Regions from separate parts of the Homo sapiens genome. Here region 2 is linked to region 1. The links come from fine-mapping of genetic effects on gene expression. Tissue or cell type: skeletal muscle. Region 1 holds a variant in brackets; the other region holds the start of a gene. All regions are shown on one strand. Distances are between the middles of the regions. Region 1 overlaps PBX3 (PBX homeobox 3). Region 2 holds the start of PBX3 (PBX homeobox 3).

Region 1 (15,408 bases):
TTTTACTAAGACTCAAAATCTCTTTATTGATCAATACAGGGACCTGAGCGTTTTCAGTTCCCCTTCCTGCTCCTGTTTTACGCTTTTGCGTGGGTTACGAATACAGTCGTGTCACTTAATGGCAGGGTTACATTTTGAGAAACTCATCATCAGGCAATTTTGTCATTGTGAGAACATCATACAGTGTTCTTACACAAGCTTAAATGATATAGCCTTCTGTACACCTAGGCTATATGGGATAGCTCATTATTGTTCCTAGGCTACAAGTCCATACAGCATGTTATGTGCTGAATACTATAGGTAATTTTAACACAGTGGTATTTGTGTATCTAAACATAGAAAAGGTAGAGTAACAATATGGTGTAAGAGATAAAACATGGTATAGCTGTATAGGGCACTTACCATGAATGGAGCTTGTAGGACTGAAAATTGCTCAGTGAGTGAGTGGTGAGTGAATGTTTAGGCCTAGGACATTAGTGCATACTACCGCACACTTTATATATGATGTACACTTAGGCTATACTAAATTTATAAAAATATTTTTATTTCTTCAATAAGTTACCCTTAGCTTACTATAACCTTTTTACTATATAAACTTTAATTTTTAACTTTTTGACTTTTGTAATAACACTTAGCTTAAAACACATTGTACAGCTTTACAGAAATATTTTTTCTTTACACCACAGAGCATTCAGATTTTTTTTTATATCCGTATTCTATAACCTTTTTATTAATTTTTTTTACTTTTTAATTTTTTTTTGTTAAAAACCAAGCCAAACACACATTGGCATAGGCCAATGTGTAAGTAGGGTCATGATCATCAAAATATCAGTAGGTGATAGGAATTTTTTAGCTCCTTTATAATCTTATGAAACCATCATTGTATATGTGGTCCATGGTTGACCAAAACATCATTATGCAGTGTATAACAGTAAATGCAAACCCCAACTGTAGTCATTTAAACGCATCAAGATATCTTTTATGTCATATAACAAGACACCCAGAGGATTACAATTTGATTCAGTAACTCATTAATGTTGGAACCATTGTGTTTGCAATCCTTCTGGCCAATGAGAGCCCTTCAGGCTGTCATCTGTGTCTTTTTGACATGTCACCATTATTCTTCAAGCAGTTCCTTATATTCTGGTATGATAAGATGTTCCCAGCTTATCTTGTCTTTGCCTTGTCCTAGCCCTGGAATCAACCGTTTCTTTAAGTATACTTGGTTCCTTTTAGTGGATAATGACATTGAGAAAACAAGATTTGAGTGTAAGTTATGCTCATTGCTATTAGGTATCACTGCTTCTGAATCTACTCAATGAAAAGATCTAGAGAAATACATACATAAACACGTATGTCGGCCGGGCACGGTGGCTCATACCTGTAATCCCAAAACTTTGGGAGGCCAAAATGGGCAGATAACCTGAGGTCAGGAGTTCAAGACCAGCCTGGCCAACATGGTGAAACCCTGTATCTATTAAAAATAAAAAATTAGTTGGGCATGGTGCGCCCCTGTAGTCCCAGGTTTTCAGGAGGCTGAGGCAGGAGAATCACTTAAACTCGGGAGGTGGAGGTTGCAGTGAGCTTAGAGATCACGCTATTGCACTCCAGCCTGGGCGACAGAGTGAGACTCCATCTCAAAAAAAAAAAAAAAAAGTATCCTAGGATCAAAGCTAGCAGGTTGCATGTTCCCTTCAAAGATGGGTACTTTCATATTTGACCTAGTGTTCTCGCAGTTATTATATTTTTCTATACTTTGAAAAGTTACTACCCTTGTTAACTCTAACTTTGTATAGATTTTAACTTGTTTGTTCCATCTCTTTTTTTTTGGAATGGTACAATGCCAGTAAAACTGTAGAATGAGACAGAATGGATCCAAATTGTTCCAAACTGTACTGTTCTATTTAAGATGAGTGCCGTAAGTGCTGTGAGCTACATATATACATTTAGATCCCAGGATTTTTAGTTCTATAGAGTCATTCTAGAGGATGTGAATAGTGAAAATGTTTCCCATTAACAGATAGATGCAATTCTAACTATCTGAAAATAACCTAGAAAAAGACCTGCTATCTGGAACAGAAATGGAGAGACTACTTTTGACTGCCCAATGAATAACATTCATGATTATTGACCAGTACTGGATCAATTTAGCCTCAAAGACCATTGATCATGCTGTATTCTTAGAGCTGTATTGGCCTTTTACTTCTCCACAGAGGCACAGATTATAGTCAGTTTGGCATTCGTTTTTAATTTTATGAAGAGTGTTTTAAATTAAAACCTATCAGATCACTCTCCCTCCTTTGAGACATTAATGTGGTCCTTATATAATTAAGCCATCCACCATTCAAGCCGATTAACAACTTCCAGAATAGGAATTTGAGGTTGAAAACACTATTCCCAATTGCCATTCTTCAGCCTGAAGGATTAGGGAATTACAGCCTCTCATTTCTAACTCATCTTTTATCAGAATTCTGAAAGATAAAATCTTCCTTATTTCTCAGTTCCATTTCTTTTTCCTTACTTGTATGCTTAGGAAGATAATTTTTCCTCACAACCTGAAGAATTATGTCTATTTTTTTGAAAGACTGAAAGAAATCAGACTAAGTAGTCAGATTTTCTGTCCTTCAGGGTAACTTTCTGGGTCAATCCATTTTGAAAAGAATATTTTTCAACTAGTTAGCAGGTAATTTTAAATTATAAAAGTACTCTCCTTGCACAGTTGAAAAAAATGTTGTAACCTCTTGCTGTTCTTCTCCTTCCTATAGTCCCACTCATCAGAGAAGACCACATTTCATCTTTCTCTTTTTTGTTTTCTTGCTAGTTACCCACCATAAATTTAAATAACTGAAATTGTTGACTGTATATCATTTTTCCATGGTAAGGAATTTGGCTTATTTATATAATCTCCCACATAATTTCCTTCTCTTCCTCTCTGGTTTTGTTGTTGTATTATTTTTTGTTCTGCTGTAGGTTCCTCGTATAACATAAGCAATGTGTTCTCTAGCTTTGATTCCATCAATATCAGACTGTATTACTTTACTTTTATATGAAACAGGAGGAAATTAGTACTCCCTTCTTTAACTGTTGTACTTTTGATATTACCTCTTAATTATTTTTGGAGAATGGTTGTCTGACTTCTCCTTTGGGCAAATGTTCTTTGCAGTGACTGGGTGTGTGTGTGTGTGTGTGTGTGTGGAAAATGTGAGGAGGGACCAAATTTCTCAGGTGTTACTCAGACCTTCTTTTAATTTACTGCCCCATTTCCTGTTGCTGTTCTCTGTCCAAGGTTGGAGCCTCTGTCAGTCTTTGCTGGGAAAACCGGCTCCTACCTCCTTCTCATTGTAGATTTGGGCCTCCTTCACTGTGATGCACTTGTCATTGTGGTGTCTCATTTGTTATCTGTGTTACAGAAATTTATCAAAATCTGGTCTTCTTCAGCCCCACCCCCTACTCTTTCTCTCTGCCTCCCTCCGTCTCTCTCTCTCTCTTTTTGTTTTTTGAGACCGTGTCTTACTATGTCACCTAGACTGCGGTTTAGGGGTGCGATCATGGCTCACTGCAGCCCCGACTGCCCGGGCTCAGGTGATTCTCCCACCTCAGCCTCAGGCGAGGACCACCACGCCTGGCTAATTTTGGTTTTTGTTTTTTGTTTTTTGTAGAGACTGGGTTTTGCCATGTTGCCCAGGCTGGTCTTGAACTCCTGAGCTCAAGTGATCTGTGTGCCTTGGCCTCCCAGAGTGCTGGGAACACAGGTGTGAGCCCCTGCACCCGGCTCTTCCCCCTTCTCAATGGTATACCCTTTACAGTCCTATCAGAGGGAAACTGGAAAGGAAGAATGGAAATTAAACATACATACTCAGTCTGCTCTCTTGAGCCAGAAGATCCAGAGCGATGCTTGCTTTTTAGTTGTCTTCAATTGTTATTGAATATTTCTATGGTGCTTTTACATTGTTCGGAGTGATTTTATCTGCTTAATCTTCATAACAACCTTTGATTTAGGTGGAATGTATATTACTCTTGTTTTACAAATTAGGAAAGTGAGGATTAGAGCGGCTAAGTAAGGGATTTACGGATGGTCACTTGCCTGAGTAAGTTGCAGAACTGGGATAGAGATTAGTGCTCGAATCTTCCAACTCAGGGTTCAGTTCTCTTTATATTATACTCTTTTGACTGGGGAAAGGGTTGTGTCTGTCCTCAAGTTTTAGTCTGTCTCTCTTTTTTGTGTGTGTTTGTGTGTGTGTATATACACAGAACATTTCAACACTGAAATTGCTTGGCAGTTTCATGGTCTTTGTGCCATACCTTCTTTAACATAGAATCCCAGTTTAATCTTTTTATCCTTTACCAGTTCTCTTCTTTTCTTGTAATGTCTCATCATTTAGATTATCAGATGATTGGTCCTTTTTGACTATTTTTGGAGACACCAGAGTTCTTATATGGTTTCATTTTTTTCTGCAGTTAATGTATCTGTGCATGCGTAGCTGATCTTCACCTTGTTAAAAGGTGAAACAATTTTTTTAATCAACATTTTTTGCTTCTTAGTCTTTCCAAAATCAGTCATGAAACTAGAGTGAAGAATTATTCTGTGTTGATAACCTCAATAGAGTAAAGAATTGGTCTGTGTTAGCACTGGTCTGTAAAGGCTACCTATAAGTAGTTTGGTTTTATCAGTGTGACTAGTTTCTTTAAAGTAGATTAGAGATGAAGTTTAGATACAACACATATTGAATCACACAGATTTGTTGTTTACTTCCAATACTTATTTATTAGGTAAAAATAAACCTATAAGAGATCTTCTTCAAGAGTATTTGCATCCCACATTCCAACACTATTCAAAGCCTTATTTTCCTAGAGATCTTGGAGGTGGACTAGAGGTACTTGTGACTTATGTGATGATGTATTTTTTTGCTTATAGATTAATCCACTGGGGTTTGTGCGATAGATACATGTCCCCTATTCTGAAAGAAACACACACACACATTAATTTCATTGAGTCTTTCTTTACATTCATATTTGCTGAGTTGCACAACTCCAGGTTGCATCATTTATAATACACTTTGATAACGGTGCATTCTAGAATTGTGCACAATGGCTACCCCACTAAACTAATCTAACTAAAGAACTCATAGAATGTAATTTAATGAAATAATTTTAAGTTTGGGAATTTTCATTCAGCTTTGATTCTAACTCACTGTAAAGTCTTACATCTTATTTTTTTTGTCCTACAAATCGAAAAAATACCATCTGCTCTAGTACCCACTTACCTCACAGAAAAGATTTGTTAGATTTTTAAAAAATTGCGGTGGAATTCCTTGGAGATAAATTCTTGTGAGTATAGCGTGCACCAGCTGTAGATGATGGACCATTCACAAAGTATATTATAAATGGTGTAGTATTGGCTGGATGCGGTGGCTCACGCCTGTAATCCCAGCACTTTGGGAGGCCGAGGCGGACGGATCACGAGGTCAGGAGATCGAGACCAGACTGGCCAACATGGTGACATCCTGTCTCTACTGAAAATGCAAAATTAGCTAGCATAGTGGCTCACACCTGTAGTCCTAGCAACCTGGGAGGCTGAGGCAGAAGAATAGCTAGAACCCGGGAGGCGGAGGTTGCAGTGAGCTGAGATGGTGCCACTGCACTCCAGCCTGGGTGACAGAGCAAGCCTTTCGTCTCAAAAAAACCAAAAAAAAAACAAAAACCAAAACCAGATATAGTATTACCAGAGAGTTCCTGCTCATAAGTATAAAAACATTTCTTACTTAAGTTATGAAGTTTGAAAATGAGCCTTACATACATAACCATACTTTTTTTTTTTTTAATTTGAGACGGAGTCTCACTCACTCTGTCACCCAGGATGGAGTGCAGTGGCATGATCTCAGCTCACTACAGCCTCTGCCTCCTGGGTTCAATTGATTCTCCTGTCTCAGCCTCCTGAGTAGCTGGGATTGTGGGTCTGTGCCACCACGCCCGGCTAATTTTTATTTTAATTTTTTTTGTATTTTTAGTAGAGACAGAGTTTCTCCATGTTGACCAGCTGGTCTCAAACTCCTGACCCCAAGTGATCTGCCTGCCTTGGCCTCCCAAAGTGCTGGGATTACAGGCATGAGCCACCACACCTGGCATGATGAGATTATTTTTTTAAAGATATATAGAAACAGGGTCTTGCTGTGTTGCCCAGGCTGGTCTTGAACTCCTGGGCTCAAAAACCTGCCCGCCTCAGCTTCCCAAAGTGTTAGGATTACAGGCGTGAGCCACTGCACTCAGCCTTGATGAGAATTATTTTTATTATTTTGAAGATGATGATGATGATGATTATTATTATTATTTGAGACGAAGTCTTTCTCTGTTGCCCAGGCTGGAGTGCAGTGGTGTGATCTCGGCTGACTGCAGCCTCCGTCTCCCAGGTTCAAGGAATTCACCTGCCTCAACCTCCCGAGTAGCTGGGACTAGAGGTATGCACCACCAAATCTGGCTAATTTTTGTGTTTTTAGTAGAGATGGGGTCTCACCATGTTGGCCAGGCTAGTCTCGAACTCCTGGCTTCAAGTGATCCACCCACCTCGGCCTCCCAAAGTGCTGGGATTACAGGTATGGGCCACTGTGCCTGGCCTGATAATTATTTTTAATCTCATACTTTCTAATGTATAATTCCAAATCTAAAACTATTTTTTTACTTTTTAATTTTCCAAAGGAACATTAATTTTTATTTTTAAATTTTCAAGGCCAGGCGGGGTGGCTCACACCTGTAATCCCAGCACTTTGGGAGGCCTAGGTGGGCGGATCACCTGAGGTGGGTAGTGAGACCAGCCTGACCAACATGGAGAAACCCTGACTCTACTAAAAATACAAAATTAGCTGGGTGTGGTGGTTCATGCCTGTAATCCCAGCTACTCGGAAGGTTGAGGCAGGAGATCACTTGAACCCGGGAGGCGGAGGTTGTGGTGAGTCAAGATCATGCCATTGCACTCCAGCCTGGGCAACAAGAGTGAAACTCCATCTCAAAAAAAAGAAAAAAAAATTCAATTCTAGCTATAATAGATCAGCTGAACTATATGGAAATGGGAAACGTGCAAATACTACTGATATCTTCCCTGCTTGTAAGAAGAGGGTTTAGATATAGATATGGGCAAAGCTTCATTTATGAATAGATTTATATATCTTCAGTGTACATATATATCCAGTGTTTTATATATATATAAAACTGGTGTTTTATGTATATATACACAATGTAACCCTGTACTCTTCACTTTTAAGTTTATTTTAGTTAGAATCTTTTAATACGAAAACTTAGAATATGAAATAGCAAAATACTACAAAAGTTGAAAACAACTCTGAGCTTTTTTGTGAATATTATCTTTTTTTCTGCCACATTTAATTAGTTATCTTTTTTGTATTTCCCATGTAAATTTTATTTCACATTCTTGGAGGATTAATATGGAATTTGTATAGATTTTGGAAAAGAAATTTTAAAAAACCCCAAAGAAATCTATTCCTATTCATTGTTTCTTTCACCTGGATCTCCTAGTACCTATAAATGGGTGCATGAAAACGTTTGCACTGCACTGAATTGAAGTTTTTACTGTGGGATTGAAAGAAGCACTGTGAAAAAGATGAAGAAACAATTGACCACACTGGATCTGTAGCCCAAGCTATTAGTTTAGTCTTAGTGTAGTCTACTCTGAATTTTGACTTACTGGATATTTAAGGTCTCTGGTTATTCCTAACAGACTGGTTGGCTTTGCTTCACCCAAATAGATTGTGGTGTGAAACAAGACACTTGATACCG[A/G]GATTAAGGAATGTCTCATGACAGTGCTTGTTTCTATTCAGCACTCCCCTCCACTTTAAAATTAACTGTTTAGGGCTTAAATGAAATGGGTTTTAAAAGCAAGACAAAACTTTGTTCTCGCTCCCTCACTAATAAACCTGTAGCATCTCACAGTAGAAAAAAGTATAGTGGGACTTACTGGCACCATGGTGCACAGCATTGAAGAATTTCATATTGTGACAACACATCAAAATAAATTGCTGTCAACAGACCAAAACACCAAGTGCTGTGATTCTGTCTGACGTGTGAAGATTCAGACAGGCTGTCTTGACAAGTTGTGGTGGAGCACCTGCATTTGACAGAAGACAGTGATATAAATCTGATTTGCCTGATACGAAGCACCTAGATATAGTTAATGCTGGTGACAGTAAGTCTGCATAAAATTTCCAAGCTGCAAGTCTGACTTTATTTTGCCTCTATTAAGTAGTAGTATTTTTTTGGTCACATTTTGATTCTCACTTATTTTCTATTTGTATTTGTAGTGTGGCCTTGAAATATAATTATGAGTTGTAAACTCTGAAAAATGTGACAAATTAATGTTTTGTTCAGTCTTTTTAAAAGTAGTATTGCAAAAGGCAATACTACTACAGTTGCTCAAAGCAAAAGAAAAGCAATGAAATTTTATTTTATACTAATCATAAATGTAATCATAGTTTAGGTTGTATTAATTTTGTAACTTATAGCCAAAATATTGAAAATAGTGGGTTAAAAGTCATGAGTTCCTATAAATCTCTCAAGCTGCGTTTGCCTTTAAAGCCTCCTGAAGAGGTAAAATCACTGAATTAGGTGGTTAATTTTTTCTTTTCGTTACCAATAAATGATAACTTTTTATAGTACCAGTATATATTACAGCTCATTTAAGAATGTGTAAAACATATCATAGCTCTGGAGTTTAATTATAGAACTTTATACGAGCTTCTCTGTTTCAGTTCTTCATACAACCACAGATACTAGAGACTTCATTCTGACAGTGGTAAGCTAATAAGAAACGCATAGAGGTATAAATTTCAATTACATTTTTCTAATTGTATCTTAAGATTTAAGAGATACTAACAATGGACTTTAGTTGAAAGAAAGAATCTTTTTTAAAGGAAAGGATTAATATAGGGGATTAATTTTTAAAAATGGAAATGAAGACAAGATCATATTAATTGTGTTATTTTTTACTTTTCTGTAGTAACTAACTTGTTGGTAGTATTTCATGGTAAGATTTGTTATTGTCTAAATAAAGAAATCTATTTGGTTTTCCCAGATCTCAAAGATGCTACTATTTCTTACCGAATTTATTGCTTAACTCATTTGAAGATTAGTTTCATTTTATCACCAATTGTTGCTCTGGTGGTTCCCCTGTGAAACACAGTGAAATAATTCAAGGATTCTCAAATTTGAGAAATTTTGAAATTAGCTCTGTCCACTATATAGTTTTAAAAAGTACAAATTATTTGTTTCAAGTTACTATTCATTCTTGACTGTATTGTTGTTTTACCCCTTAAAGGCTGCTAATGAGAAATAGAGCCTCATTATGATTTTAAGGATGAGAGAGGAAGGCTTTTAATTAATGATATGTAAATGGTCTTGAATTGATTATGTTAGAATATCAAGAGAGATGGGTAGAAGCTGTGGTGTAATATATTTTAATTAAGAATTAATTAAAAATGATGGCAATTTCATAAAGCCTCACAGAAAATAGTGGAATTTACTTTCTGTCAGGAGTAAATTAGCCTGTGATTAAATAAAGGGCCTGCATTAATAGTGGAGTTATTTTTAAACTGTGCTATGAAGAATTATGTAATTTTTCCTAAATAAGTAAAATTAAAATTTAATATTTAAAGGTGGGTAGTAAATGGTGGCAGAGAGCTAACTTATTTTTATGACTCAAATATATTGTTTCTTCTTTATAAAATTTTGTGTAAATATTTTTAACCTCAGCATATACAGCATATAGCTTTAAAAGAATGGACTTTGTCTGTTCTATTGCCCATTTGGCATTGGGGATAAGGAATGCTCTTACACGTAGCCATGGCAGTGGTTTTCCTCTTGTACACAAGATCTGGGAAAGATCTTTACTGATGACTGAAAATTATTTTTAAAGGAGGTACTCTTCTTTTTTTCCCTGTTCTCCAGAGTTTAAAAACGTTTCTTCCTTAGATGTGGTTTTTCATTGTAAATAATACTCTTTCTTTAGAAACTCTAAAATGTGTATATTTCTTTACGTTGAAACCTGAAATTTCCCTGAGCATACCGTTTATTCAGACTCAGACTACACTATTTTTATAAACATTTTTTTCCACTAGTTTAGAGAAATGTTTTAAAAGGAAACTTGTCTTTGAGTTCAACTTGGATTGTAATTTGAATGTAGAAGAAAGGCTGCATAATCCAATCAAAGCATATATTTCATTAATGTTTTTTGTACATTAATACAGGGTATCTCAGTATAGTAGCTTATTATATTGAGTTATTATTTAAAACCCCACATAATACATTATGATACCCTCAACCTTAATTCAGTACTTCATACTTGTGAAACACCCCATAATGAGTAGTTGAATTTTGGGATTTTATGGATCATCCATATCAATAGTTATATAACTTGTGGGGTTTTTTAGTTTTTTTGTTTTGTTTGCTAAGTAGCTAAAAAAAAAAAAAAGATGTGAGTTTTACTTTGTCAGAACCTCCCACCATTCATTAATTCTCCTAACTCACCTATGTTTGCCTATTTAGCAAGTATGCCTCTTGTATGTGTAAGTTTGTGGTATGGTCATATTTGATGACGCTTCTGTGGTTCTTGAAACTCCAAAATACAGTTGTGGGAAAAGTGGAGAAACGAACATTCTCTGGTTCCCTCTGCAAATGCTGACCATTGCTGTTGATTATTGACATTTTCAAATTTACTTCAGTCACTGTAATATATAAAAATAAGCATCACAAATAAAAGTTGTCATGACCCTGTGAGGAAATTGTTGTTGATGTGCTATTTAACTTTTATTTACCTGTACATGCTGCTCAGAAAATGGTTTTTATGTACCAGTGTGTGTTATGCTGTTCATTGAAGTATTACCATAGCAACAGTAATATCTCTTGCTTTCATCTTAATGCTGATTTCAAGATACAAAGATAGTTTTTAAAAGACTGAATTTAACATATATAATGTTAATATGGTCCTTTTTAAGGAGGATAAATTACTTTTTTTTTTGGTAATAGTGTTAAATAAAGTTTTAAAGGCTAAATAGTCTGTTAGTGCCTCAATGAAATTTCTGTGTTAGCTACTTTGGATCAGTCTCCTTTTTTAAAAAAAGAAAGAAAGAAAGATTAAAAAAGAATTCTGTATGTTTTTATCTTGGGGTTTAGAAGACAGAAAAGAATGGTTAAGAGAAGGAAGTACAGATCCAATGGGAAACAGTTAAAAGATTTGGAACGTGTTTTGACTAGAGAAAAGTAGGCTAGGCTGGGCGCGGTGGCTCATGTCTGTAATCCCAGCACTTTGGGAGGCTGAGGTGGGTGAATGACTTGAGGTCAGGAGTTCGAGACCAGCTTGGCCAACATGGTGAAACCCCATCTCTACCAAAAATGCAAAAATTAGCCAGGCATGGTGGCCCGCACCTGTAGTCCCAGCCACTCAGGAGGCTGAGGCAGGAGAATTGCTTGAACCTGGGAGTCAGAGGTCGCAGTGAGCTGAGATCGTGCCACTGCACTCCAGCCTGGGTGACAGAGCAAGACTTTGTCTCAAAAAAAAAAAAAAAATGTAGGCTAAAGGGTTAAAGGATTTTTATGAGCTTGATGCCAGGTGTTTGACCTCTGTATACAACTACTATTATTATTTTTAGCTTTATCAATAAAGGATGAAACATAAGGAAGTGTCCTGAAAGTGAAAGTAAGAAAGATTGTGGTTTGATTTGTAGAGGGGCTACGTAACCACTAGAGTGAAAAATGACTGGTCCGTTTGTGAGTCTCTGTACCTGTTGATCTGTCTTGGGTGTGTGCTAGATATGCCTGGAATGAAGAATCTTAACCAGAAGCATGCTCAAGGGCCTGTCCACAGTTCCGTTATTCCATGATGCCTTATTGATCCAGTATTTCAAAGGAAAGTATACCTTTCTTTATTATGAGAATGCATATTTAATTAATTTGTTGTGCACAGGACACTTAGGCTTCTCATTGCTGTTTTCCAGGTGTCTCAAAGGACAAGATAACTCTAGTCTCCAAGGTATATTGTAAGTCTAGTCCTAGGCCTTCCTAGTTTATAAGGAAGTTAACAGGGTCTAGAAAGATACAGTCTTTCAGACTAACAGGTTCTTATTGATTGTATTAGAATTTAAATTAGAATCTATATGATGAATTACATTTGATGAATCAGTTGGCTTTTTTTTTTTTTTAAATACTCATTGCTTACTAGACAGTGGGGGACAACAAAGTCTCCAGAAATGGCTGATCTCAGCATTGCTATCTGTAGCCGCAGCTGTTGTTATGTAACAATAACGATAGCTACCATTGACTGAACGTTGACTGTTTGCCATGCGTTGTGAAAAGTGCTTTACATGCATTAGTTCATTTAATCCTTGTATCAACTCTATGATTTAGGCCACTGATTCTCGGACTTTTTGTTTTCAGGATCTCTTTCCATACCACATTTAAAATTAAAAATAATTGAGAATTGCCAGGCATAGTGGCTCACGCCTGAAATCTCAGCACTTTGGGAGGCTGAGGCAGTGGATCACTTGAGCTCAGGAGTTCGAGACCAGCCTGGATAACATGGCGAAACCTTATCTCTACAAGAAATACAATAATTGGCTGGGCGTGGTGGCATGCACCTATTTTCCTAGCTATTCAGGAGGCTGAGGTGGGAGGATAGCTTGAACCTGGGAGGTGGAGGTTGCAGTGAGCTGAGATTGTGCTACTGCACTCCAGACTGGGCAACAAAGTGAGACTCTGTCCCCCGCAAAAAAAAACAATTATTGAGAACCTAGCAAGCTTTGGCTTATGTGGGTTATATTTATTAGTATTTACTGTATTAGAAATTTAAAAATTTTATTAGTTTATTTTAAAATAACAATAACACGTTAGCATAAGTATCATTTTAAAATAAAAAACAACTTATATTTCCAAAATAAAAAATTAGATGATTGATATTGTTTTACTTTTTTTTTTTTTTAACAAATTCTTTAATGTCTGGCTTCAACAGCTGTTTTCTCATATTTCCTTCTGCATTCTGTTGTGATGCCATGCTTCACGTAGCCTGTTGTCAACTTCATTGTATACTCATGAACAAATTAGAGTTAAAACAGAAAATGTGACATCTTAATGAATTATGAAAACAGTTTTGACCTTGCAGAGCCCTGAGGGTACCTCAGTGACCCCACGGGTACCTGGGCCACAGTTTGAAAACCACTGATTTAGAAAGTATCCTCATTTCATCAGTAAGCATCACTGTGTACTTCTGCTATCCTGTATTGCTAACAAGTGTCCATTTTTCTTTTTTACTCTCAATTTTGGCATTTAGAGGATCAATTCATGATTGTGATATCGCCAAGTTTAATGTAGTAGCTTTGTTTAGTTTAGGAATCTTATTTGGGAACTTGCCTAGAATGTCCTGGAAGGAAGTCTGTTTAATTTTGCATTGGGAGATACTTTATAAATGTTAGCTGTGGGTGGCAGTTTTCAACCAGTTAAATTCTACCATTATCTTTGAGAAAGGCAATAACGTTAATATTTAACTAGTTCCAGAAGTTAGGATAGAACATTTAATTCCAGGAGAAAACAGCTAAAATTGCCTGTAGTGAATAGAGATTCTCGCCTAGTAAATTCCTTTATTTACCACAATCTTACCAGGTTCTTTTGAGGCATGATTTTTACCTGTTTTAACATTTTTCATGGCTCAATTATTTTACATATAGGATTCTTTGAAAAAGAAGTGCTTCCTAACTTTAAATTCAAATAATTTATTTACTATTCTCATATCTTGATTATTTGTCACAAATGATATAGTAATAACCTTCCTTTCTCTTCAAAATGTTTTTATGTGAAGTTCAAACAGAATTGAAAATCAGATAATATAAGTCTTGTCGACTCTAGCTTGTCTGGAATATTCACAAATTAATGAAGGGTCATTGGTGATTATGGGATTTTTTCCTTTGAAAATATATCTAATGAATACATAAGATATATTTCATAAACATAATATGGTAATGTCACTACTAAGTATTTAGACAGTTCAGCTTATTGGGTGATGACACACACTTTTTTTCTTTGAAAATATATGCATAAGATATATTAAATATTTGAAAAATATAATAAAGGTAATGTCAGTACTAAGTATTTAGATGGTTCAACTTATTGTGTGATGACTTTATTCAGAAGAGTGGATTGCTCTGACCCTTAATTATGGACATATTTTTTAATTGACACATAATATTTTCTATATTTATGGTGTACATGTGATATTTTGTTGCATGCATAGAATGTGTAATGATCAAGTCAGAGTATTTAAGGTATCCATCACCTTAAGTATTTATTATTTCTCTGTGTTTGGTAACATTTCAAGTTCTTTCTTCTAGCTACTTTGAAATATACCACACATTCTTGCTAACTGTAGTCACTCTACCCTGCTATCAAACATTAGAAATTATACTTTTAATCTAACTGTATGTTTGTACCCATTAACCAATCCCTCTTTATCCACACCTCCCACCCACACCCCTCCCAGTCTGTGGTGTCTGTCACTCTATTCTCTACCTCTGTGTGATCAACTTTTTTGGCTCCCACATATAAATGAGAACGTGAAATTGGGACATAACTTTTAACCCAATAAAATTATGCAGTATATCAATGAATGTATTTGAATGAATTATTAGTGGTAATTCTGAAGTAAAGACCCATGTAGGGTATATGGACTTTTTGCATTTTGATTTTTGCTTATGAAATATTTCAAACACATAGCCTTTTATTTCTTCCTGTTAAGTTTAATAAATGTTAACATTTTGCCATCTCTGCTTTAGACATTTATTTTTAAAAAATATCCATTTACATATGTTTGAAGTTTCCCCATCCGTTCAGCTCACTAACTTCCCCACCCCAAATTAGTACCTATTTATCTTATGGTTGGTACATATTCTTCTCATGTGAAAAATGCTTTTACTACACATACGTGTATTTACAAATAATGTTAGTATTTTTAGTATTGACAAATATAATGTGTATATATACACATATGTAATACCTATGTGTCGTATATACACACTGTACATCTTTTTGTAGCTTGATTTTTTGCTCACCAGTTTTCAACATGTACTGCATTGATTTTGATATCCGTGAATTGATTTTATTAGTTTTACCTGCTTTGTAGTATTCTACCGTGCAGATGAACTTCACATTCATTTCACTACTGATGGATGCTTACATTTCATCTGAAATTTTGGTATTATAAACATGCTTGTACACATATTTTTGTCCATATGCAAGAATTCCTCTGAGGTATATAACTAGGAATAGAGTTGTTGGGTTTATAGAGTATGTGTATATCCAACTTTATCTGATGTTGCCAAATTGCTTTCCAAAGTGGTTGTACCAATTTATATTGCTACCAGT
Region 2 (15,408 bases), 74 kb before region 1:
GAAAAGAAAAGGAAGAGAAAAGGAATAGGAAGATGAGGGAAGCAGATAAAGAGAAAGGAAAAGGAAGAGAAGGAGAAAGAAGAAAGGGGAAGAGAGAAAAGAAGAGGAGGAAGAGGAGGGCAGAGAACTGAGGATGAATCTTGGGATGTGGAGGACCGGGAAGCAAATGTTAGAGATTTACCTTTTACAATGGACTCTCATATTCATTGTAATGATAGTTTTTACTATACCTCAGTGTGTTAAGTCTTTTTTTTTTTCAGATGGAGTCTCGCTCTGTTGCCAGGCTGGAGTGCAGTGGCGCGATCTCGGCTCGCTGCAACCTCTACGTCACGGGTTCAAGCGATTCTCCTGCCTCAGCCTCCGAAGTAGCTGGGACTACAGGCGTGTGCCACCACACCCAGCTATTTTTTGTACATTTTTAGTAGAGACGGGGTTTTACCATGTTGGCCAGGATGGTCTCCATCTCTTGACCTCGTGATCCGCCCGCCTCAGTCTTCCAAAGTGCTGGGATTACAGGCATGAACCACTATGCCTGGCTGGTAGGTTATTACTATTATTACTGTCATTGACAGATGAGAAAGCTGAGAGGCTAAATAACCTGACCGAGGCCAAGTAGCCATTTAGTGGTGGAGCTAGGATTCAGATCCAAGTTTGCCTGATCCCAGATGCAGAGCTCTTAACTACAGGGCTACAGTGCCTACAACTGTACTCTTTCTATGTTAGACCCTGGCTTCCTTATTAATTAGGATTAAGTTTGGCTGCCTGTACTGGAAATAAGTATATGGCAGTGGATTTAATAAGACAGAAGTTTATTCCTTCTTCTGTAAGAGCCGTGTGGAAGAAGCAATCAAGGGTTGGTGTTATCCCTTAGATGGTGGCTTCATGGTGCCACCCGTGCCCCAGGTTCTTAAGTTTCTGCTTCACTATCCTAGTGCCTGACCTCCACTCTCAAGATCATTTCATGGGCCAAGATGACTCCTGGAGCTCCAGACATCAACTACAGGCTGGGAAAAGGAGGTGGGGAAAAGGCAAAAGGAATTTGTCTCAATTAAATTAGGTTCCTTTAAGTAGGCCTCTTAGAAATGACAGTCAATTAATCCCAGTTAAAGGCATGGTGCCCAACTAGACTGCTTTCACTTCAGATGCCAGCCACAAGTTCTGAGGTCCCCTGGCCACCTGTACTTCTAACCAACTGGCTGAAAATGTGGGTGTTCCTGTGACCCCTTTAGGTTCTATAATTTGCTAGAATGACACAGAACTTAGGAAAGCACTATACTCAGCATTATAGTTTAATTATAAGGGATATAAACCAGGGCCAGTCAAGTAGAGAGGTCAAGGGCAAGAGCTGGGAGGGTCCTGAATGCAGAGCTTCCATGCTTTTCCCCATGGTGTCAGGGTGTATCACCCTCCTGGCACATCAATGTATTCACCAACCAGGAAGCTTTTCTGGGCTTGGGTGTCCAGAGTTTTTATCGGAGTTTCATTATATAGACATGATTGATTGAATCATTGGCCTTATGACTGAACTCAATCTCCAGCTCCCTCAAAGCCCCAACACTCTAATCACATGGTTGGTCTTTCTGGTGACCAGCCACCATCCTGAGTCATCACTTTAGCATAAAATTAGATGTGATCTAAGGGCCTCATGAATAATAAAAACACTCTTATAGCTTGGGAGATTTCAAGGGTTTTAGATGTTACCTCCCAGGAATCCAATACAAAGACGAGAGGAATTTTTTTTTTTATCATACATCATCTCCCCCACTCTAGGAGCTCCTACTATGTGTCGGGCATTGTGCTAGGCTATTCCATCCATCCATCCATCAGTCCATCCATCCATCCATCCATCCATCCATCCATCCATCCACACATACATCTGTCATATAAGTGTTTATAGTGCTATATCAGCTTTTCTGCAAGATACAGAAAACCCAGCCAATAGGATTTTAAAACAGGAGATGAATTTACTCACAAAACTAGAAATCCAAGGGAAAGCAGTTGCTTCTTTGGCTCAGATGTTGGACCATGTCTGCAGACACCTAGGCTCTCCTTATCTTTCTACCCCACTTACCATGTTTATTTTTGTTTTGAATGAATGTTTTATTTTATTTACTTATTTTTTTTTTTTTTGAGACAGAGTCTCGCTCTGTCACCCAGGCTGGAGTGCAGTGGCTCAGTCTCGGCTCACTGCAAGCTCCACCTCCCAGGTCGACGTCATTCTCCTGCCTCAGCCTCCCGAGTAGCTGGGACTACAGCCGGCTGCCACCATGCCTGGCTAATTTTTTTGTATTTTTAGTAGAGACGGGGTTTCACCGTGTTAGCCAGGATGGTCTCGATCTCCTGACCTCGTGATTCACCCGCCTCAGCCTCCCAAAGTGCTGGGATTACAGGCGTGAGCCACCGCTCCTGGCCCTGAATGTTTTTTTTTAAAGTATTTACAGATAAAAATTAGAAGGTGGTGGGGCCGGATGCGGTGGCTCATGCCTGTAATCCCAGCACTTTGGGAGGCCGAGGTGGGTGGATCATGAGGTCAGGAGATCGAGACCATCCTGGCTAACACGGTGAAACCCTACCTCTACTGAAAATACAAAAAATTAGCCAGGCGTGGTGGTGGGTGCCTGTAGTCCCAGCTACTCCGGAGGCTGAGGCAGGAGAATGGCGTGGATCCAGGAGGTGGAGCTTGCAGTGAGCCGAGATTGCGCCACTGCACTCCAGCCTGGGCGACAGAGCGAGACTCCGTCTCAAAAAAAAAAAAAAAAGAAAAAAAAATTTAGAAGGTGGTACAGAGAGTTCCCTAATATCCCATACACTATTTCCTCTATTATTAACATCTCACATTAATATGGTACTTTTTGAAATTAATGAACCAATGTGAAATGTTATCACTAACTGAAGTGTATACTTTATTCAAATTTCCATAGTTTTTTTTTTTTTTCTTGAGACGGAGTCTCGCTCTGTTGCCCAGGCTGGAGTGCAGCGGCGCCATCTGGGCTCACTGCAAGCTCTGCCTTCTGGGTTCACGCCATTCTCCTGCCTCAGCCTCCCGAGTAGCTGGGACTACAGGCGCCAGCCACCACGCCCGGCTAATTTTTTTAAAAAATTTTTTTAGTAGAGACGGGGTTTCACTGTATTAGCCAGGATGGTCTCGATCTCCTGACCTCATGATCCGCCTGTCTCGGCCTCCCAAAGTGCTGAGATTACAGGCGTGAGCCACCGCGCCTGGCCAAATTTCCATAGTTTTTACCTAATATCCCTTTTCTGTTCCAGGATCCCATCCAGAATGCTAGATTACATCCAGTCCTCATTTCTCCTTAGGCTCTTCTTGGTTGTGACAGTTTTTCAACTTTTCTTACTCTTTATGACCTTGACAGTTACAAGGAGTACAAAGACCAGAGAAATTACTGGCCAGGTATTTTGTAGAATGTCCTTCAATTAGTATTTGTGTAATATTTTTCTAATTATTGGTCTGGGATTACAAGCTTTGGGAGGAAGACCACAGATATAAACCACCAAACCATGTTGATTTTGTCTTCATATTTTCATTTCACTATCACAGGTGGCTGCTATGAGCACTCCAGATTCAGGACTACTTTCAAAGATGGAAAGAGCCAGGAAAATGAAGGAGAGAAGAGCCATGTCTGTCCCCTTTTTTTTCTTTTTCTGAGACAGGGTCTCGTTCTTTGCCCAGGCTGGAGTGCAGTGGCCAAATTGCTGGGATTACAGGCATGAGCCAGCACGCCTGGCCTATCTGTCCCTTTTTTAAAAAATTAGCAAGGTCACCCCTCCTCCTGACAGGCTCAGAAGGCAGGGGACAGGATGCTCATACTTGTTTTAGACCTTGATTGGGACTGAGCACATTGTCTTCAGAATAAAATCAGGCTTCTATTGGTGTAGAAGGAAGTAAGCCAATGGATGGCAGGCCAACAACTGGTCATGTCGGCCCCAACTGTCTATTCTGTATGAAACTGCACCGTACTGGGTGCTATGAAGGGACATAAGAGAGGGAGCATTCTACCAAATTTTTCTAGAAATTATACATTCTGATAAATATTCTCTTTTAAAGGCATCACTTTAGAAGGATGGACTGTTATCCCACTAAATCTTTGGTAACTCAATCAAATCCATCCTTAGAAGATAAACGTTGGTCATATGTCACATGTGCTATCAACTGTAAAGACCAATTCTAAAGAGTCATTCCTGTCTGGGTGCAGTGGCTCATGCCTGTAATCCCAGTACTTCGAGATGCTGAGGTGGGATGATCCCTTGAGGCCAGGAGTTTGAACGCAGCCTGAGCACCATAGCGAGACCTCATCCATACAAAAAAAATACAAAAAATTAGCTGGGTGTAGTGGTGTGCACCTGCAGTCTCAGCTACTCAGGAGCCCTGAGGCAGGAGGATTGCCCAGGAATTCAAAGTTACAGTGAGCTATGATCGCGCCACTGTACTCCAGCCTGGGTGACAGAGCAAGTCCCACTCTCTAGAGAAACAAATCAATGAACAAACAAATAAACAAATAGATAGTCATTCCTAAAGCAATGGAGCAATGATACATTTTGAAAAGAAGCATTTAGTCAGTTTCCCCAAAGTGACAAGTTGGAGAGTGTTACCTTTTCTTAGATGTCTATGATTTAAAAAAAAATCAAATCTGTCATATTATAGTCACATCTTACGACACCTTGCCCTTGACATTTTTATGACCTAGATGAGGAAACTAACAGAGGTGGATGGAGAACAAACAGTGCAAGACTATCTAGTATGGTAGTAGGTTATGTATTACAGGCAACATATACTGAGGGAGTTTATTTATTTATTTATTTATTTATTTATTTATTTATGAGACAGAGTCTCACTCTGTTGCCCAGGCTGGAGTGTAATGAGGCGATCTCACTGCAATCTTCTGAGGGAGTTTAGAGGAGACAAAGATCAGAGAAGACAGGCATCACAGAAAAGCTTCGGAGAGGTGGGACCCAATGTGGCTTTGAAGAATGGTCTGACTGTCCTTAATTTCCCTCCTCCCCTGCCTTGAGACCTGGATTCCTCTAATATAGCTGTTTATTCTCTCTTTATTAAGCACCTAGTTACTTATTTTCATTAATTTTTCAGTTTATCTGTTAAGGTCTTGTGATTTTTACTTCATAATCTTAAATAACTTTTAAAAAAATTTTAGGAGAAATGGTAGCACTACTTTGCTCAAGCTAGAGTGCAGTGGCTATTCACAAGTGTGATCATAGCATACTGCAGCCTCAAACTACTGCACTCAAGTGATTCTCCTGTTTCTGCCTCTAAAGTAGCTGGAACTACAGTTGCATGTCACCAGCCTGGCTAAATTACTTTTTTGCACAGTGTTTTATACGGTAGTCTTTGCAGCCACATAGATCAATATTTGAATTCAAGCTCTAGTACTTACTGGCTTTGTGGTCTTGTGGAAATTTCTTACTCTCTCTCATTCTATTTCTTATTTAATAACAATCCCAAGCAGGCTGTTGTGAGACTGTAATAAGATGAAGCAAGGGAACACAGAGGATAGTGTACCCCCAAAGAAAGTGCTCAATAATGGCATCTGCTGTGATAGTCACCCTATTGATGACAGAGGCAATGGTGATGTTAATATAAACTCATGGAAAGGGATGGCCATGAAGGAACATCTGCTTGGTTTTCACCACTTTGTCACTGTTAACTTTACATGAATGTCTGCTCACCAAAAGTCAATTTCATTTCCCTTGACATTTTAATAATCACTACCTTAGAAACAGCAAAGACAGACTCGGGTACTCAGGGAACTTCTGTTCTGTCATCTGTGAAGGCATCAACCTTGTGACTCAGATTCTTGAGCAGAGATCACGCAACATTCTACATGAGACACTGGCACGAGCACCAAGAGATCCTGGAACATCTGCAATTAGTTGACAGTTATATTGAGGCTTGGAAACCAGTCTAAAAAAGTTATGCTTTAAATCAACGGCAGTTGTCAATGAGCCTGTGAAGGAATCCTTGCTAGGGTCCTCAGGCTTCTACTGCAACTCATACTGATAACAACAAAAAGAGAAGCCTCCCAAGCAGAAGGTCAGTCTAATTCAATCACTTAAGGCAGAATTATGGTATCAAGTTTCCACATCACTGAATGACCATGGGTGTAGAGGAGTGTACCATAAAATAACTGTGGGTGTTAGACATTTAACAAGTTGTTTTATTCCTAATTGCTGGCATTTGCCTAACTGTTTTCTTAATTCTAATTTATGTTTTTATGTTCCAGTGTGTTTACACAGCCCATAGTTCCCAATTGCCTTTATTTGCTTAAGTGTTTCTTTATTTACTTTTTTTTTTTTTTTTTGAAAAGAAGTCTCACTCTGTCGCCCAGGCTGGAGGGGAGTGGCACAATCTCAGTTCACCGCAACCTCCACCTCCTGGGTACAAGTGATTCTCCTGCCTCAGCCTCCTGAGTAGCTGGGATTACAGGCGCCTGCCACCAAGCCCAGCTAATTTTTTGTATTTTTAGTAGAGATGGGGTTTCACCATGTTGGCCAGGCTGGTCTCAACTCCTGACCTTGTGATCCACCTGCCTCGGCCTCCCAAAGTTCTGAGATTACAGGCATGAGCCACCGGCCTATTTACATTTTTATATATGTTGCTTTGCTTACATAACTCATTGTTCGGAGTGGGCTAGAAATAACCATAAATCCCCATTGCTAATTAGCCTCATCCTCATGACTGATTAGTCAAGATTATGAGTCTAGAAGGAGGGCAGAGAGGAGTCCTAATAGTGAGTCACAGGATTATTGAATTTTACAGCTGGAAGGAATCTTAGAATTTAAGGCATCTTTCAGTTAGAATTCTGTGGTTTTGCATCCTCAGCGTTGGAGAATTATGAAAGGTTGACCGCTTGCTCCTGCGCCTTTTGGCAAAAATGCTTAAGAATTTGGTGACAGCTTTAAAAAACAAATTAAGAATAAAGAAAAAACCCAATCAATGACGATTATAAGTAACCCATAATGGGGGCTTCAAAGAAGAATTGGAAACTTGACATATCAATGGGGTATAGAAGAGCAGAGAATATTAATGAACATGAAGGGGGTTCTTCTTTGGAGGTAAGTAAGCAGAGTGGATTTTTTGGAACTCCCTCCTCAGCAGCTGTGCAGTTTGTAAGGATTTTAGCTTGCCTAACTGTAAGCTTAGCTATTAGCTTTGCAGTGGGGAGTATTTAAAAGTACACACAACATATGAAGGAAAGAACCTGGAACCGAGTAGCCTGCTTCATTCCAAGAATCCATCTGGCATTTAAAGAACTGCTTGTCCTACATTAAACCCTGCAGAGTAAGAGCCATTTTTCATATCCTCATACCCCTATTTTTGGTTTCAGGTAAGACAGCTTACTGAGTTTGGAGAAGGAACAAAGAGACTTTTCCGAACCACCGAACCAAAGGACTCATCTAGGGTGAGCTCAATGAATCTAAAATCGGGAACACACATTGCAGCCCCTGTTTGGGAAATCAGCTTAAGAGCAATCTCAAGTCTCCACAAGAGGCGGAGGTCCATATTCCAAAATAATGTGAGCCTTCAGTTATTTGTAGGTAGAATTCAATGGAAGAAGGGGTGTTATAGATACGAAAAATCGTGGCTGGCGTTACCAACATTAAATGACTCGTGGTGATGGGGTAAGTTGACAAGTGAAATCCAGTCTCTTCCTAAACAAACGTATCTTTGTAATGAAGAGCTCGTTTTTGCAGCTTCAGTACATCTGGAGGCATCGAATAGCAAACGCTGCCAAAGGAGTAGTCCCTGGATTATCAGGAGTTGCAGAGTGTGTAAAGTGTTGTAAACCTTGAAATTAGTCCTGGACTGAAGGCACTTTCCCTCCTCCCAGACTCGCTTCTCTCTGACACATTTCCCCTTTCAATGGAAAGTCTATGGCAGTCAGGTCCACTCAGCTCAGACTTCAAGTATGTGAGACCACAGGTTCCCACCTTAACTGGTCACCCATTGAGGGACAGCACAAGACCCCGGTGCTGGCGCCAACGCTGAGCTGCGCCCTCTCGGTTACCATGGCGACCGCAGGCGGGGCGAGGCCCCCACTCGCCGCTTCCCCGCCTCTGCCCAGAACCTTTCGAACGCTCCAATTGGGACGACCCTTTCTTGCCTCTGTCCCGCCCCATTCGGCTCTAAGCGCTTTGCGATTGGCCCGGGACGAGCGGCCTGGTACCCAGAGGGCACCACCTCCTGACAGGAAGAGCGGGAAAGTGCACCAGGAGCTGTCCGAGGCGTGAAGCTCACGGGCGCGGCGGGGGAGCACACGGTTGGCTTTGCAGCGAGTTGCCCACTGTCCCATACACAACCCCCCGCTCCCATGACTGCCAAAAGCATGGAGCAGGAGTCGGGGTGCGGGCACACCGTTTGTGGGCCGGCCCGGTCTATCCCGGGGGGCTAGGACGCGACGAGGTTGGAGCGAGGATCCGGCGGCACACTCCGGAGCGCGGAGTATCAGAGGCCAGAGGGAACGGGCCGGGCCCCGGGGGCGGTGCCGGCGGCGGCGGCGGGAGGCGCAGAGCCCAATGAGCGCGCGCACCGCCCCGGGGGCGGGGTCTGAGGAGCGCTCCCCCGCCCTTGCCAGCCCCCGTCCCTCCCCCCGGCGCGGGGCCGCAGTGAGTGAGTGGCACTGGCAGCCTGTCAATCCCTCGGCCCAGCGGCCTTCCAGCCCGGTCCGCGGCGGCTGCTGGCTGGGTGCGCGGCTCCGGCGGCGGCGGCGGCGACTTCTCCCGCCCTATCCATCGGCTGTCCGCCCGGCGCGCGGCCCGCCGGGGCCCTCCTCCGGGCTCAGCGCCCCCGCCGCCTCTGCCCGCCCGCTCCCAAACTTTCCTCCTCCGCCCCCCCTCGCTCCCCGCGGCCCGCCCGCAGGCCTCCTCCTCCGCCGCCGCCCGCCGCCGCCGCCGCTGCCTCCCCCGGGGCCGCCGGGGCTCGGATCCCGCCTGGCCGAGGCGGCGGCGGCGGCCGAGGAGGGCAGTGCGCAGGCTGGCGCGGGGGGCGGCGGGCGTCCCGGCAACTCGGCGGGCGCTGAGGAGCAAGTTGCGCGGGGCCGCCCGGCGGGGCGCGCGGCGGCGAGGAGGCGGCGCGGCGGCCGCGTGAGGGCAGCGGGCGCCGCCGCCTCCGCCTCCGCCACCGCCGCGGAGCCCGGCGCTTCCGCCCGCCGCTTCTCCTCAGCCTCGGCGGCGGCGGAAGCCGGAGCCGGGCGCCCGTCCTCATCGCCTCAGCCGCGGGCCCTGCCGGCCGGGCCGCCCCCTCCCCGCGCGGGCGGGGAGCGCGCGGCCGCCTCCCCCTCCCCCTCCCCCTCTTTCTTCTCCTCCCTCGTCGCCGCCGCCGCCGCCGCCGCCTCAGCCTTCGCCTCAGCCGCCGCCCGCTCCCGCCCGCGCGCGGCGGGATGGACGATCAATCCAGGATGCTGCAGACTCTGGCCGGGGTGAACCTGGCTGGCCACTCGGTGCAGGGGGGCATGGCCCTGCCGCCTCCCCCGCACGGCCACGAAGGGGCGGACGGCGACGGCAGGAAGCAGGACATCGGCGACATCCTCCACCAGATCATGACCATCACCGACCAGAGCTTGGACGAGGCGCAAGCAAAGTTGGTGTCGTCTCATTAAGCATCTTTTGTGTGTGTGCGGGAGCCGGGCCCGCGGCCGAGTCGAGGCCCGGGGTGGCGCCCGGGGCTAGGGCCGCAGCCCCCGGCGGGGAACTTTCTCCGAAAGCCGGCCGCCCGCCCCGGCCTCGGGGGGACTTGCCCGCGCCCCCCGAAGCGGGCGGGAGTCGGCAAAGTTGCTCTGGGGGGCTCGGGACGGACTCGGTGCGGCGCGGATTCCGTGGCGTCCTTTCCCCCGTCCTGCCCCTCGCAGCCCGGCCCCCTCCCAGGGATTTAAACCTCCCGCCCCGACCCCGTGCGGGCCGCGCCGCCGGGAAGTGTAACTTTCTCCTCCGGCGGGGAGTCCCGGCGCCGGCTCCCGCGGCCGCGGGACGACCTCGCGATGCGGGCGGCCACCCGGGCCCGGCGCGGGGCGATGGGCGGTTCCCTGGCGGGTCCGGGTGCGGACGGCCAAGTTCTCGGAGAGGGAGGGCCGCCTTGCAAACTTTGCCGAGCTGTCACCCTCCCGCTGGCCGCAGTCGGCCGGCCTCCTCTGCACAGGAGCGGACGCGGGAGCCCCTCCGCACCCGTCCCCTCCCCCGGGTCGCCTTCGCCTGCCCCCGGGGCGAGGCTCCCCGCGCGGGTTCGCGTCGCGTCTGCAGTGGCCGAGGCTGCTGCCTGCCGGGCAGATGGGTCCGCCTTGTTCCGGCTGCAGCTTTCGCCGCCGGGGCTTGCTGGCTGTCGGGAACTAGTCAACTGGAGTTTTTGTTGACTTCCCACGGTTCAAAAGGGCCTTCCAGAATGGGGGGCTGGAATTAAATCTTGGGTCTAACTTAAAGGAAGGCGCCATATTATTCCATAGGTGATGCTAATACCTTTGTGTTTCGTTATTTGTTTTTTAGGAAACATGCCCTGAACTGTCACAGAATGAAACCAGCGCTCTTCAGCGTCCTGTGTGAGATCAAAGAGAAAACAGGTAAGACGCTGCGCCCCGCAGTGGGCCTGGAGACCCCCGAGGTGGGGGTCGGAGCTACTCCTTCGACTCTCCAGTTGAGAGCTGCTGCTTTTGGGCACCGCCATCTTTGATCATTCTCTCCTTCCCACGTCCTGATCTTGAGAAAAAACTGCAATAAATCTGGAGTCAATTTCTCAGTTCTGCTCCTGGTGTAAAATGAAGTGTAGGTGCGGACCGGGCTGGATCGCCGTCCCTCGGCGGCCGCCCCTGGCTGCAGGCGGGGAGGGGGCCCGGAGCGCCAGCCGCCCTCTTCCCTCTCCTTTCGCCTTGTTTGTGTGTCAGTTTTTAAAAGGAGCAACGGGAGACTGGATGCCAGGACCGAGTCCCCGGGAGAAGCATCGCCCGAACTTTGTTTTACTTAGACAGTCTTAAGCTTCAGCTGCACGGATAGAAGAATAGATGCAATTGAACAGACCCCAGTAGCATGCTTGAATTAGTGTTTTAGGTGGGAAGGCTACTTTAGAGAATCGAGGAAGGGTAATGATGTGTAGACACATACGATGTATTACATCTGTTAATACTTGTATTATTTTGTATTCTGAAGTCATTACACTTGTAACTGTGCTTAATATATAAAGTATAAAAAGGTCTACAGATGCAGGTTAAACAATTTTGAAGTGTCCAAGTCAGGGAATATATAAGAAGATAGGTTTTGCAGAAGTGCTGGAATGAAAACTACAGGTACATATTTGGCAAATTTTTGGCAATTCGTTTCAGTTTAACTTTCTTGTCAGACTTTATTAATTGAAGGTCTTTCAGTCTTGACGTGAGGTAACTGCTCAAACTGAAGCAGAGATTTGGATGTTTTAGTTTGTATTTGGCATTATCTTCCCTGTATGTGGCAAACAAGTACATTAAACAAGCTCTACTGTTTATTTTTTTCCTGTTCTTTTCTTTCTTTTTTTTTTTTTTTTTGGTGTGTGTTGGATGTATGGTATTTTAAAGTTGCCATTTTGAAAGTTGAGGCAAAGGAGAAAAAGTTGAAGTCCAGGATATAGCACTATCCAAGGGAGGCTATTTAGAAGGTTACATGTGATTGTGTTTAAATTGAGTGTACAAATAGCACAGTGCAAATAATTGTTAGGTTGATAGGCGAGTCAGCCTTCTTTGAAACAGGTTTTTCGCTTTGCAATACTATTCTGATCCTAAAAGTAATCAAGAAAAGATGATGAGTTATTGCTGTCTATTAAATATATATGCTAAACCATAATAAGCAGCAAATAATAAGGGAGGCCAAAGAGTACTTTTCCTGGTTTTCATTCACATATTATGGCTGGTTTCTTAATGCTCAGTGATCCTTTCTTGAATTACTAACTTTTATTTTGTGTTGATTTTTAGCTACCTTTAGAAAGCGTTTTGATTTAAAGCAGTAGATAATTTTTATCTGACTGTAAAATAAGACATCTAGCATTCAGTCTTGAAGATTCTTAGTTTAGAAGCTTAAAAGTATGCAATTCTCAGTAAATTCTGATGCTTAGTGTCCAAGGGTTTTCCTGCTATCAGGGCTCCACTTCAGTTTCTGCTGACAGCCAAGCACTGGGGTATTGACTATGTTGTGAATATTAAGATTGATTCGACTTTATACAGCCTTATATTACTAGGGAGAGGGGATGGATACTTATCGCTTCTCATCCCCTTCTCATTATTTGTATTTATTTATTTATTTTTGCCTTTTTAAAGTTTTGGCCTAGCTAGCTTGAGAACTAAACCCAGCAAACTGCTTTTCATGTTGAGACATTTAGCAGCAGGCAGAATTCAATTAGGAAGCATAAGTCCTTTAGTTGCTTATTTGCACAGGACTTAGTTACACCATTCTGAAAGGAAAGTATAGTCAACCACATGTCAAAGGTGAGTTACGAAAAAGAAACAAATCTTTTCAAAGTCTGGGATTACTGGCAGAGAGAGCTTTGGTAGGGCTATTGCTATTTAAAAACCAAGAGGCAGCTGACAAAAGAAATTTTTGTGTTTTAAAATTGTTTCTGGGGCTTTCAGTGATAACTTGTAAATTAGATTCTCTTTTTGTGCTTTGGCCAGTGGATCCACATTTGCACGTTATCTCTTTTGTAAAAAGCCAACAGCCGACAAAGAGTAAAGGCGGCTGTCTGGGTAGAGGCATCTTCCTGCTAGCCTCTCTAAGCTCGAGAGGGATGGGATTTAAGTACTGAGTGATTGATGGGGGTGAAGCTCTTTCTCTTCTTTCCATTCTCCCCTACTACCCATAGCTTCACCTCACTCTCCAAAACTAGTCTTAGAATGAGACAGGGACTCAGAATCCTCAATTCGAAATAAAACAGCTGTGTAGACATTAGTGTTACCAAAGCAAAGAAAGCGGGGCTGCAAATTCCAAGCCCCCCCACTCCTGCTTCCATAGTCGGTCATGCTTTAGAAACATGAACTTATAAAAGAAACATTGTAGAATATATGTATATTGCATAAATATTTTTTAAAAATCATTTTATTTAATCTAATAATACCTAAAAATTAATTCTTTGTAATTTAGAGAAAGTTTACCTAGTCATTTATGAATAGAAACCAGAAACATTATGTTGATGACTCTATTCTGCTTAATGAAGGGGGTTGAGGGTGAACTGTCATTTCAGTGGATAATGTCATTTCAGTTGTGCTTTTCTTCTAAAACAAAACAAAATCATTTTAAAAAAAATCTGTTTATTTGTAGCTCTGCCAGTGGATTTTGAGGTTTCTGATCAGGCAGTGAACACTGCCAGTTCTTATGCACATGGGGGATTTAGTTTAGAAAACATCTGTTTCCCCCTCTACCATATATGAAAAGGTATTTTTCCCTTCTGACAGATAAATGGGTAATCTACTACAATTATATTATTTTCTTGTTGAGAGGTAAGGAAAGTATACTTCTACTATAAGATGCTGCTTTTTCTTGAGAATATATTCTTTCGTAAAATTGATCATACCATTATTTTTGGGCAGAAATGTCTCTCATTGTTGAATTGTGATATTTGTGCATTTTGAGAGCACCCAAAAAGTTGTAGGCTTTAAAATAAAAATAGTTGTTTATTTTAAACCAAGTAACCAGTGAGATTATTGTTGATATGTTAAGATTTTTCTCCTGATTTTTAAAGCCATATTTTATCATCTGTCTCTTATTAAATATCCCTGATGCCACAAGGTCTGCTCACCTGCATACCTCTTTTGGTGTATGCCCCCACCTCTTTTTGGTCATCTTAATCTTAATTGTTGAAGTGCTTTCCTTTGTGAAATATTTCATCCTGAAAAATCTTGTCTTCTTTCCAAAGCCCTTAATTGTGCGAGTTTAAGTGAAGGAAATAGTTCTTTTTCAAGAAAAAAATATTTATTTTTTAAATGAAATCCCACATTTTAGTAGATAATATGAATCACATTATTGTGAAAAATGTTATGCATGAAAAAAAATAAACACAACCTTTTCCTTTTCAAATAATAGGTTAAAATACTCCATGTTGATGGCTGCCAACCAAACTCTGATTTATTGCCACCACAAACCCTAAATAGCGTTCATTTACTAGTAATGTCTAATGGCATACATGATGGTTTGCCAGATTTGTAGCCTTTGTGAGGCTTATAAGTAGGACTGACTTGGGAAGATCATAAAACTTAATGAACTTCTCTACTGCAGGAGGTGTCCGCAGGGGAAGAGAAAGGCCTGCTTGGTTGGTTGGGCTGGTTGAAGTATTTTTTATGTTTAAGGAGAAGAAAATGACTAGTAAAAATGCCTTACTTTTAAAGGAACCCTCCCTAGAAAGAGTCATAAGAATTTTAGATATTAAAACTAGATCAAGAGTATAGTTTACAAGTGAGGTTTTATGTGCATTTAGTATATGATGTGAGATTAAACCTTTTATCTTTATTGCTAGAAGTGTGACTAGCTTTCAAAGAGACAAGGCAGTACTGTCATTCGACACCTCTCTATTTAATTGTGAACCCACAGGTTTAGAGACTCTTTGGAGTCTTTTTTTGGTGTGCTTCTCTTTTTAAGGTTTCAATATAAAAATCTGTTACATTTTTCTTTGTACAGTGCTGTGTGATTCTTTTAATTCTACATATGTAAAAATCAATTTTTTCAAGTGAAAATTTAGCAAGAAAGGTGAAAATTGTTATATATTAGTCTAAATGTTATTATATATTTTGCATATGCTTTTAAGTTGCTCTTGCACTATTTCCAATATAATTATCATCTTTTGTTTCAAGTTTTAAAAACAAATGCACTGTTCCATACATGATTCCTTTTTGTGTTTTCATGAAACACATTTTGTTTTAATGAACTTATTTTCAAGATTTTAACAACTTTTTATTGTGGACACCTTTGAAACATAACATGCAGAGAGCAGAGACTCTTGAACCTCCCATGAACTCAGTGCCCATCTTCAGCAATTAGCAATACTTGGCCAGTCGTGTTTTCTCTGTAATTCCCACCATTCCAAAATTATTTTGAAGCAAATTTTAATGGTTCTTTAATGTTTTAAGTTTCATATCAATTTTAAGCATTAGGTCTGCTTATATTGGAAATATTAAGTGATTAAACAGGAAAAATACAAAGTCAGAGTATCTTGGAAATGTTATAAATTATATTGCTTTATCAATATATTTTTCTTAACTTAATATTTTACCTTTTTTTTTTTCTATTTTTATAGATTTGGTATCTTACTGGAGCTTTTGTAGGAGGTTTTCAGAGAAGTTGTAAAAGAAAGGGATTTTTCTACTTCTTTATTCTTCCATTTCCATCCTAACAAAATAGCACATATAATACATTTGTAGAAAACCTGGAGAAAAATCT

The links.
Region 2: PBX3 starts here. The variant in region 1 is fine-mapped to the expression of PBX3 in skeletal muscle (GTEx, PIP 0.97).

What each region holds. Positions count from the first base shown.
Region 1 is chr9:125,812,524-125,827,931 of GRCh38, forward strand. The region is part of intron 2 of PBX3 (PBX homeobox 3); the gene reads left to right. Among named protein-coding and RNA genes, the nearest start is that of PBX3, 73 kb to the left of the region's middle. RefSeq lists an enhancer at 8,641-8,690. The variant A/G (reference allele first, on the strand shown) is at 7,789.
Region 2 is chr9:125,738,044-125,753,451 of GRCh38, forward strand. It overlaps PBX3 (PBX homeobox 3), which reads left to right and starts at 9,330. Exons shown (of 9, transcript NM_006195.6): 1 at 9,330-9,610; 2 at 10,507-10,580. The coding sequence starts at 9,411. It overlaps PBX3-DT (PBX3 divergent transcript), which reads right to left and starts at 7,886. Exons shown (of 2, transcript NR_122032.1): 1 at 7,373-7,886; 2 at 5,711-5,894. RefSeq lists silencers at 8,425-8,854, 9,105-9,154, 9,165-9,694, 9,965-10,304.